Linked DNA regions of Homo sapiens. The gene in region 1 interacts genetically with each later gene. Each region holds a gene or a part of one and is shown on either strand. Other genes may lie near its edges.

The links. A genetic interaction does not mean that the proteins touch.
Region 2: of SNCA (region 1) and SIN3A, changing one suppresses a phenotype caused by changing the other (phenotypic suppression), as found in Homo sapiens cells (one study listed by BioGRID).

The regions. Positions count from the first base shown.
Region 1 is NC_000004.12:89,723,524-89,729,309, forward strand, and holds the end of SNCA (alpha-synuclein), read right to left. Parts: intron 5,755-5,786; coding exon 5,671-5,754; intron 3,138-5,670; coding exon 3,105-3,137; 3' UTR 576-3,104; downstream 1-575. UniProt on the Homo sapiens protein: Neuronal protein that plays several roles in synaptic activity such as regulation of synaptic vesicle trafficking and subsequent neurotransmitter release.
Region 2 is NC_000015.10:75,368,879-75,371,690, reverse strand, and holds the end of SIN3A (paired amphipathic helix protein Sin3a), read left to right. Parts: 3' UTR 1-2,312; downstream 2,313-2,812. UniProt on the Homo sapiens protein: Acts as a transcriptional repressor. Corepressor for REST. Interacts with MXI1 to repress MYC responsive genes and antagonize MYC oncogenic activities. Also interacts with MXD1-MAX heterodimers to repress transcription by tethering SIN3A to DNA.

The sequences.
Region 1 (5,786 bases):
CAGGTTTGATAATTTGCTAGTGTGATTCACAGACTTCAGGAAAACAGTTTGCTTACTAGATTACCAGTTTGTTATAAAAGGATACAACTCAGGAACAGCCAGATGGAAGAGATGCACAGGGAAAGGTATGGGGGAGGCGTGGGGAGCTTGCATGCCTTCTCTGGACACACCACAATTCCCAGCACCTCTGCATGTTCACCTATTTCAAAGCACTCTGAATCCTGTCTTTTAGGGATTTTTATGGAGTCTTCATCATGGAAGCATTGTTGCTTATTAACTCAATCTCCAGCTCCTCTTCTCTCCCGTCCCCAGAAGATGTGAATGGGGCCAAAAGCTTCAAGCTTCTTATCATGGCTTGACCTTTCTGGTGACCAGCCCCCATCCAGGAACCCAGCAAGAGTCACTTCATTAGAAGAGAAGATGCTACTCTCACCCAGGGACTAAGGAGCTCTGTCAGAAAGCAGAGTCAAAGACCAAATATTAGAACAAAAGATGACCCTAGCACCCCTACTACTCAGGAAATTACAAGGGTTTTAGGAGCTCTTTGTAAGAACTGGAGGCAGAAACCAAATACATATTTTCATATATGTATATATTTATTATGTCACAAATAGCTACATACTGGATAAGCCAGAAAGATGAGGAAACATGTTTGCATCTCACACTAGTGCAGAGATTCTGAAAAAGACCCCACTTGGAATACCAAACCACACATTAGATTGTTCTGTTCCCAATTGTGTGCCAAAGTGCACTCTGAACTGTTTTGGTAAAGCCGACCGTGGAGTCATATGAGGCTGAATAACTTGGGAGAATGTAAGTCTGCAAAATAAACCTAGGACTGGATTGATCCTCAGGCCACTTGGCAGGTGAATGTCTCGGGAGTGAATATGAGACAAGCTTCCTGAAAAGGCTTATATGACTTAAAGAACTTTTTGTTTAAGTGTTTGGTCCCAAATAAACTATTAAGATATATAAAGTAATTCACTGCTCAAAAATTACCGTCAGATAAATATTAAGGGAAGAAACACTTTAAAGGAGAATTTGTATCCACATAAATCCTTAAATTCATGGTCACAACTTTCCTAATCTCAAATTGTTCTAGGTCACTGCTATCAGTCTAGTTCTGTCCTCTATTTCTTAATTTAATACCAATACTTTTAAATTTTTAAAATATGCTGCTTTAGGTAGATTTAAAATATATCCTAACCGCCACTTTCTAACCTTCCTGAAATATACTGTTCAATAACAAATCCTTTCCTTGCTTAAACATAACTTAAATAAAACAAGAAACTTACCATTTCTCTCTAGTGTAAGATGACACATGCAGCTTAGCACTCTGTAGTAGTCTCTCTTCAATTAGGTAAAAAAGGAAGTTTCTATGGTAACCATCCTTATAGTCACTCATTCCTCCTTCCTTCCTCACCAGCGCCCAATATATATCACATTACTCATGAATACATATAAACTGCTAGCATGTCTAGAATATTCTGTCTTGAAATTATACTTTCTACTAGTGACTTTTAGAAATGACTATGCCCCAGAATAATTAAAAAGAGAAACCAAATAATTTTTAAATTAATTTATACAGAGTTTTTCACCATCAAGTTTATTTTCAGCACCCATGGGGAGTTAATAGATCTTCCCTGAAAGAGAAAAACCTTTCCTAAGGAAAAATCCTAGAATTCATATATTTGGCAACATTTAAAGGAGGCCATGAAATTTTTATCAGTCTAGAGAATTGATCTCCTTTAAGGTGACTCTGGTAGTTCCAACGATGTTTAAAGGCATTTCCTGTAAAAAAAAAAAAAAAAAGAGAGCGAGAGAAAAAGAGAGAGAGAGAGAGAGAATTTCTGATGATTAAAAAAAAAAAGTGAGGAATGCTGAGTTAAACAAAGTTAACCACATTCTCTCAGAGCCTTGAATGTGCTAATATGTGCTAATGTGTCTTATGGCTCTCTAAGGAGGGTGTAGTCAAAATCATCTTCTACACTGCTTAGTTCCCGGGAACCCACTTTTTTTTTTTTTTTATTCATGGTCGAATATTATTTATTGTCAGAAAGGTACAGCATTCACACCAATATCAGACAAAATAGATTTTAACTAAAAAATTATTTCGAGACAAAAATAACAATATATGTTAATAAAAGGCTCAATTAAAAATGTATAACAATTATAAACACATACACATCAAACAACAGTTCCCCAAAATACGTAAAGCAAACATTGACAGGATTGAAGGGAGAAATAGACCACTCTACAATAGTAGTTGGGGTCTTCAACACCCCACTTTCAATAATTAATCACAGCCACTTAAGGAACCAGTGCATACCAAAACACACTTCTGGCAGTGTTGCTTCAGGGAATTCCGAGTGTAGGGTTAATGTTCCATTTTCTCTACCTCTTCTAAAATTCCTCCTTCTTCAAATGGCTATTAATAACTTTATATTTTTGTCCTTTGTGTCAGTTCTTAATTCATGTTGCTTATAAGCATGATTTTTATTATTAAAGTGAGATGGGATAAAAATAAAATATTTTTGCAATGAGATAACGTTTTATTTTAATTCTCACCATTTATATACAAACACAAGTGAATAAAACACATCGCAAAATGGTAAAATTTCATATTTAGTATTTATAGGTGCATAGTTTCATGCTCACATATTTTTAAGTATTATATATATTAACAAATTTCACAATACGTCATTATTCTTAGACAGTATCATTAAAAGACACCTAAAAATCTTATAATATATGATAGCAAATCACTAACAACTTCTGAACAACAGCAACAAAAAAATAGTGAGGATTTAGAAATAAGTGGTAGTCACTTAGGTGTTTTTAATTTGTTTTAACATCGTAGATTGAAGCCACAAAATCCACAGCACACAAAGACCCTGCTACCATGTATTCACTTCAGTGAAAGGGAAGCACCGAAATGCTGAGTGGGGGCAGGTACAGATACTTCAATCACTGCTGATGGAAGACTTCGAGATACACTGTAAAAACTTTGAGAAATGTCATGACTGGGCACATTGGAACTGAGCACTTGTACAGGATGGAACATCTGTCAGCAGATCTCAAGAAACTGGGAGCAAAGATATTTCTTAGGCTTCAGGTTCGTAGTCTTGATACCCTTCCTAATATTAGAAAAATCAAAAAGACAGCACACACTGTTAGTATAAGTTTCAATTACGCATCAGCACTGACAGCCAATGAGATAGGAAATGGCTCCCCACTTACACTAAAATTTACAATCAATGTTTTTGCAAATATTCTGCAGCAAATATTATCTTATTTTTAATAGTTGTGTCTTTCTTGTCTGATATAAAAGTGAATTACAGTAGTAGTCAGAGTTAAAATATCTAGGTTCTGATCCGGATGCACCATTTAATGATCATATACCTAGTTTGGTAGGACAAATAAGTTGGACTGTCTGGTTCTCAGTTTCTTCACCTGTAAAATGTGAGAACAAAATCAAGCTGTCTATAAAGCCTTTTCCAGACTAAGATGCTCTAATTCTCAGAAGGAAATTAAGATGTTTGAAGGCAAGATACATTTTCCCTACTTTCACTCTCCCAGTTGAAAATTTCGTCTTCATCTATGGCTTCAATTATTACTTGTATTTCAAACCTCAAGCTCTCCATACAGTATCTGGATAGCATCCACAACACAAATATTAATGGATTTAATTAAAGGGATCAGATTATTCCTCCTAAAGAGCAACTCTAATAATATCAGGATTCTGCTTAAAAACAAACAAATAAGCATAACTTCAATAACTCAAGTTGTTTTCTGAATAGAATACAAGCTGAAATGACAAGATTATCCTAATACTCTATAACTTGTCTTTGACCCATAGCTGCAAATTCAATCTATCACCATTTTCCTTGTTCCTAAGCTTGAGTCATAATTATTCACTGTTCTCAGACATATCCATTTGCATGCTCAGACATACATGCCTTTGCTTCTGATATTCCCTTGTGCCAGAATGTCCTCTGTTTGTTTTGACCTACTATATCTCTTACCTTTTCCCACCCAGATCAACATTACCTCCTCAATAAAACTTCTCCTGATTGATTGAAACAGATCTTTAAAATGTTTTACTTTTTAGTATGTCTTATATATTTTTGCTCCTGTGATGCCTGGTACATCGAAGACAATCAATTATGTTTGTTAAAGGAATCATAATGAAGAAATGAATGAATGAATTTCTATTTTTTTTCATCAAACCTACCAGACTGTAAACTCCTTATGTCCTGGTAATGTCAATTACTCTATAGTTTTCCATTGTGTTTAGTACTGTGTCTTGCATAAAAGACCCCAAAATATTGGAAATTCTTATTAGGCAAACAAACAATTTAATCTCAATTTCTATAAGTTGAATTATTATCAATATGCCTTTCGTGTGTCTGTGTGAGACAGTCTTGCTCTGTTACCAAGATTGGAGTGCAGGGGTGCCATCTCAGCTCACTGCAACCTCTGCCTCCTGGGTTCAAGTGACTCTCATGCCTCAGCCTCCCAAGTAGCTGGAACCATAGGCGTGTACCACCATGCCCGGCTAATTTTTGTATTTTTAGTAGAGATGGGGTTTCACCATGTTGGCCAGACTGGTCTCCAACTCCTGGCCTCAAGTAACCTGGCCACTTTGGCTCACAAAGTGCGGGATTACAGGTGTGAACTGCTGTGCCCATCCTCGACATGCCTTTTAATAATGCCGTGAGGAATAATACATAACCAAACTACAACATACTTGAACTCAATTTTTAATGGAGCCATTATATAGTTTCTTTTCTTGTGATATCTTCATTTGGTTTTGATTATCAGGGTAATATTGGTCTCACAAAATTAGTTGGGAAATGTCTCCTCTTCTGTTTTGTAAGAGATATTAATTGGTGTTAACTAATTAGTATTAATTCCTCTTTAAATGTTTGGTAGAATTTACCAGTGATGCCATCTCGGCCTGGGATTTTCTTTGCAGGTAGGTTTTTTTTTTTATTACTAATTTAATCTATTCGCTGTGTTACAAATCTATTCAGATTTACTGTTTCTTCTTGGGCCAGTTTTATTCATCTAACAGTATTTTCTAATTTCCCTTTTGATACATTTTCTATTAAAGATACTTTCATTTTCAATCAAAATAAAATTAACAATCATATTGTGTTGTTTAAAACATTATACTGGAATATATCAATTGTCGCAAATCATGCATTTATCTTTTTATTCTATAACTTGTGTGGGTAACTTTTATTTTACTATGCGTCATCCCATTGGACATGTATGGCAAAAAATAATAACCTTCCTTTGGCATTCCATTGATTTCCCTAACTTTCCATTTAGAAATTTATTTTAGAATGTAAAGTTTCTAAAAATATATTCTCTAATGCAGGGGTTAGTAAACTTTTCCTGTAAAGGGTCAAGTAGTAAGTATATTAAGCTATGTGGACTACATATGATTTCTTTTACATCCTTTCTTCCTCTTCTTCATCTTCCTCCTCCTCTTTTTTTTTAAGGACCCTTTAAAAATGTAAAAACTATTCTTAACTTGCAAGTTGTCCACGTAATGAGCATGTAGAGAGCAAATGATTCTCACTAAGCACTAATGAAAGAGAAATGTGACAATGACAGGTTTTTGGTACTGTCTTGTTAGAAAGATTCAGCTTGGACTCCTACCTCAGAAGGCATTTCATAAGCCTCATTGTCAGGATCCACAGGCATATCTTCCAGAATTCCTTCCTGTGGGGCTCCTTCTTCATTCTAATATTTAAAGTAAGAAGCACAAAAAGAAC
Region 2 (2,812 bases), on another chromosome or scaffold:
TGCACACACCAGCAGAGCTAAGACTGGAGTCTCCTGTGGCCTAACTTTCAATGAGGGAACCGGATGCTGTTCACACTTTGACTGGATGGAGATGCATTTACAAAACAGACTGGAGAAGGACTTAATACTCAGATGGATTGGAACTATCATGGTCACTGCTCCTCTCCCCTCCCCACAAAAGGAAAAAAAAGCTGGATTTGATTTTTTTTTTCTGGTCACTCGAGCACATCTAAGATCACCCATTAGGTTTTATCTGGGACCTGCAGTTTGGCTTTGGGATTGATCATCTTGTGGATTTTATTCCTGACGATTCCCTTGCTGCCTACCCTTTTCTCTCCTCTGGTTCTCAACCTCAACGAGTTCAAATCAGTTGTCCTTTTTAGCTCCCGTGGAACTGTTTTGTATCTGCCTCTTTACTAGTCTACCTTAGTGCCATCCACCAGCTTTACTCTCTGACACACACACGCACACACACACACAATTTTAACTTGTTTTTTTGTACATAATGTACATACTGTCAATTTTTTATTAAAAGAAATATGCTTTGATGTGCTAGCATAACTGCTCTAGCTTCTTGTGTACCATAGTACTGTGGCTTCAGATTTAGTACCTATGAACAGATGTACAAGACATTTATTACACTTTTTACCAAAGGGAGTTACCATTGTAGTACTTTTGTGTAAAACTTGTCTTCCCCTTTGCCCCCAACTTTTTTTTTTTTTTTTTTGTAAATAAATAAAGCTTGGTTCTTACTTAAGGAATAAACTCTCAACCCACGTCCCTTGTCCTCACCAGAAAATACTGTGAAGCAGGGATTTTGACTTCAGTTCCTTATCCAGGGTAGAAACAGGATTTTGCTTAAAATACTTGTTACTTGTCCCAAATCAAAATATTCCAAAATCTTAGAATACTTAAGTCTTTTAGTACGTGTTTTTTTCCCTTGTTCAAATAATCTGAAAATATTTTATATTTGGGTAAGTTGTCAAGCTATGTAGTTTGTATTTCTATATATTTTTTCTTATTCACATTGGTGATGGATGGGGGTGAGCAACTTAAATACCAAACCAGTGTTTGAAAAAAAAGTGTGCATAAGGCATGTGGTATACCTTATAAATGGAGTTGGGAGGGAGAGAATTTGAAATGGGATACCTATTTTTTTAATTACATAAATTTAAACTAGCAGACATTTAAACATGAATGATTAGGATTTTTCTATGTGGTTAACCTGGACTTTCTGAACAAAGACCAACTGAGCCCCTCCCAGTACTCTGGTGGATTTTTCTTCAGCAACCATTACGCAAGTCTTAGTTGTAACCAGCAATGTTCTGTGTGTTTTATGTTTGCTTTTTAGTTAAAAATCACCACCACCACCAAAAAGAAAAACAAAATTTTTTGGCTCCTGGATTTTCAAAACACATGGTAGACCTCTCTGATTTTAGGCTTTTATTGTTTAAAGACAGTGTCTCGCTTTATGACCCACACTGGAGTGCAGTGCCACGATCATAGCTCACTGCAGGCTTGACCTCCCAGGCTCAAGCAGTCCTCCCACCTCGGCCTCCTGAGTAGCTGCATGCCACCACGCCCAGCTAATTTTTTAACTTTTTGTAGAGACAGGGTCTTGCTATGCTGCCCAGGTTGGTCTCAAACTCCTGGCCTCAAGCTGTCCTCCCACCTCGGCCTCGCAAAGTGCTGAGATTACAGGTGTGAGCCACCCTGGCCTGATTTTAGGCTTTTTTTGTACTGGGGAGAAGAGACTGTGAGCCAAAGTGTAGGGTGCCAAAAAGAGCTTTGTGGGATGAGATTTTAGGGCAAAGCTGGGGCAGTGTCTGACTTGGCGGTGGTCATGTGTACTGATTTAGGGGAAAGATCTTGAGGTTTTCTCAAATAATTCACCTATCCCCGTGTTCCCTCAAGAAAGGTCATGTTGACCTGGAACCATAGGGGAAATTGGTGGGGTGTGATCAGGGTCAGCCCCAGCTGTTGCTGCCCCTGCAGTGTTTTGTCCAGAGCACTTGCCTGCAGGTCAGGATAGGATTTCAAGGCCAGTTCAGGAGAAAGTCCCAACCCACCAGTGCAACCAACAAAAGAGTAAGTTTTACCTACAGCCTGGGTTTTCACAAGTAGCATTTTTATTCCTCCTGCTGTCTGACATCTGAGCTCCAAGCTCTAAACCCAACCTGTATTATATGCAGCAGCAGGTTATCTTTGTTTTAAATCACATTTGTTATTCTGTACTTAGTCACCTTTCCGTGTGATCTGCATTTGAAATGTTGTAAACTTGGTCAGTATTTCCATTAAAATATCAGGGCTAATCTTGTGTATTTTTTTTTGTTCCTAATGATTTTATAGACAAAGACTCTTGGCAACCCCAGGAGAAAAAAAATAAAGCTGTCAGTGGAGTACTAGGGATGAGAATGAAACTGGAGGTCTGTTTCTGGTATTATGGCTTCCCGGGACTCTACAGTCCTGTATGGTGAAATACATTTTTCCATTGGGATCGTCAATGCCATGACTGTTCTGCCACCTCAAACTCCAGAGTTTCTGGTGATGTGCAAGAGTTAGCAATATACATTCAGTAAAGCGTGTAATCGAGTAAGTCGTAGTAACTTGGGCGTAAAGCTCTACCACCCTGCTCACTAACACCCTGATCTCCGTCCGGTATGAAAACACCTATTCCGGGTAGTCTGGCTCCACGTTAAGCAAACACCACTTTCCGTGTTCACCGACAGCTAGAGCCAGAGGTCTCCCGGTTGCTGCTTCTGAGGCTGGGTCTGCAGCAGCTGAGGCTCCCGCCTGTCTTGCCGAATGGCCT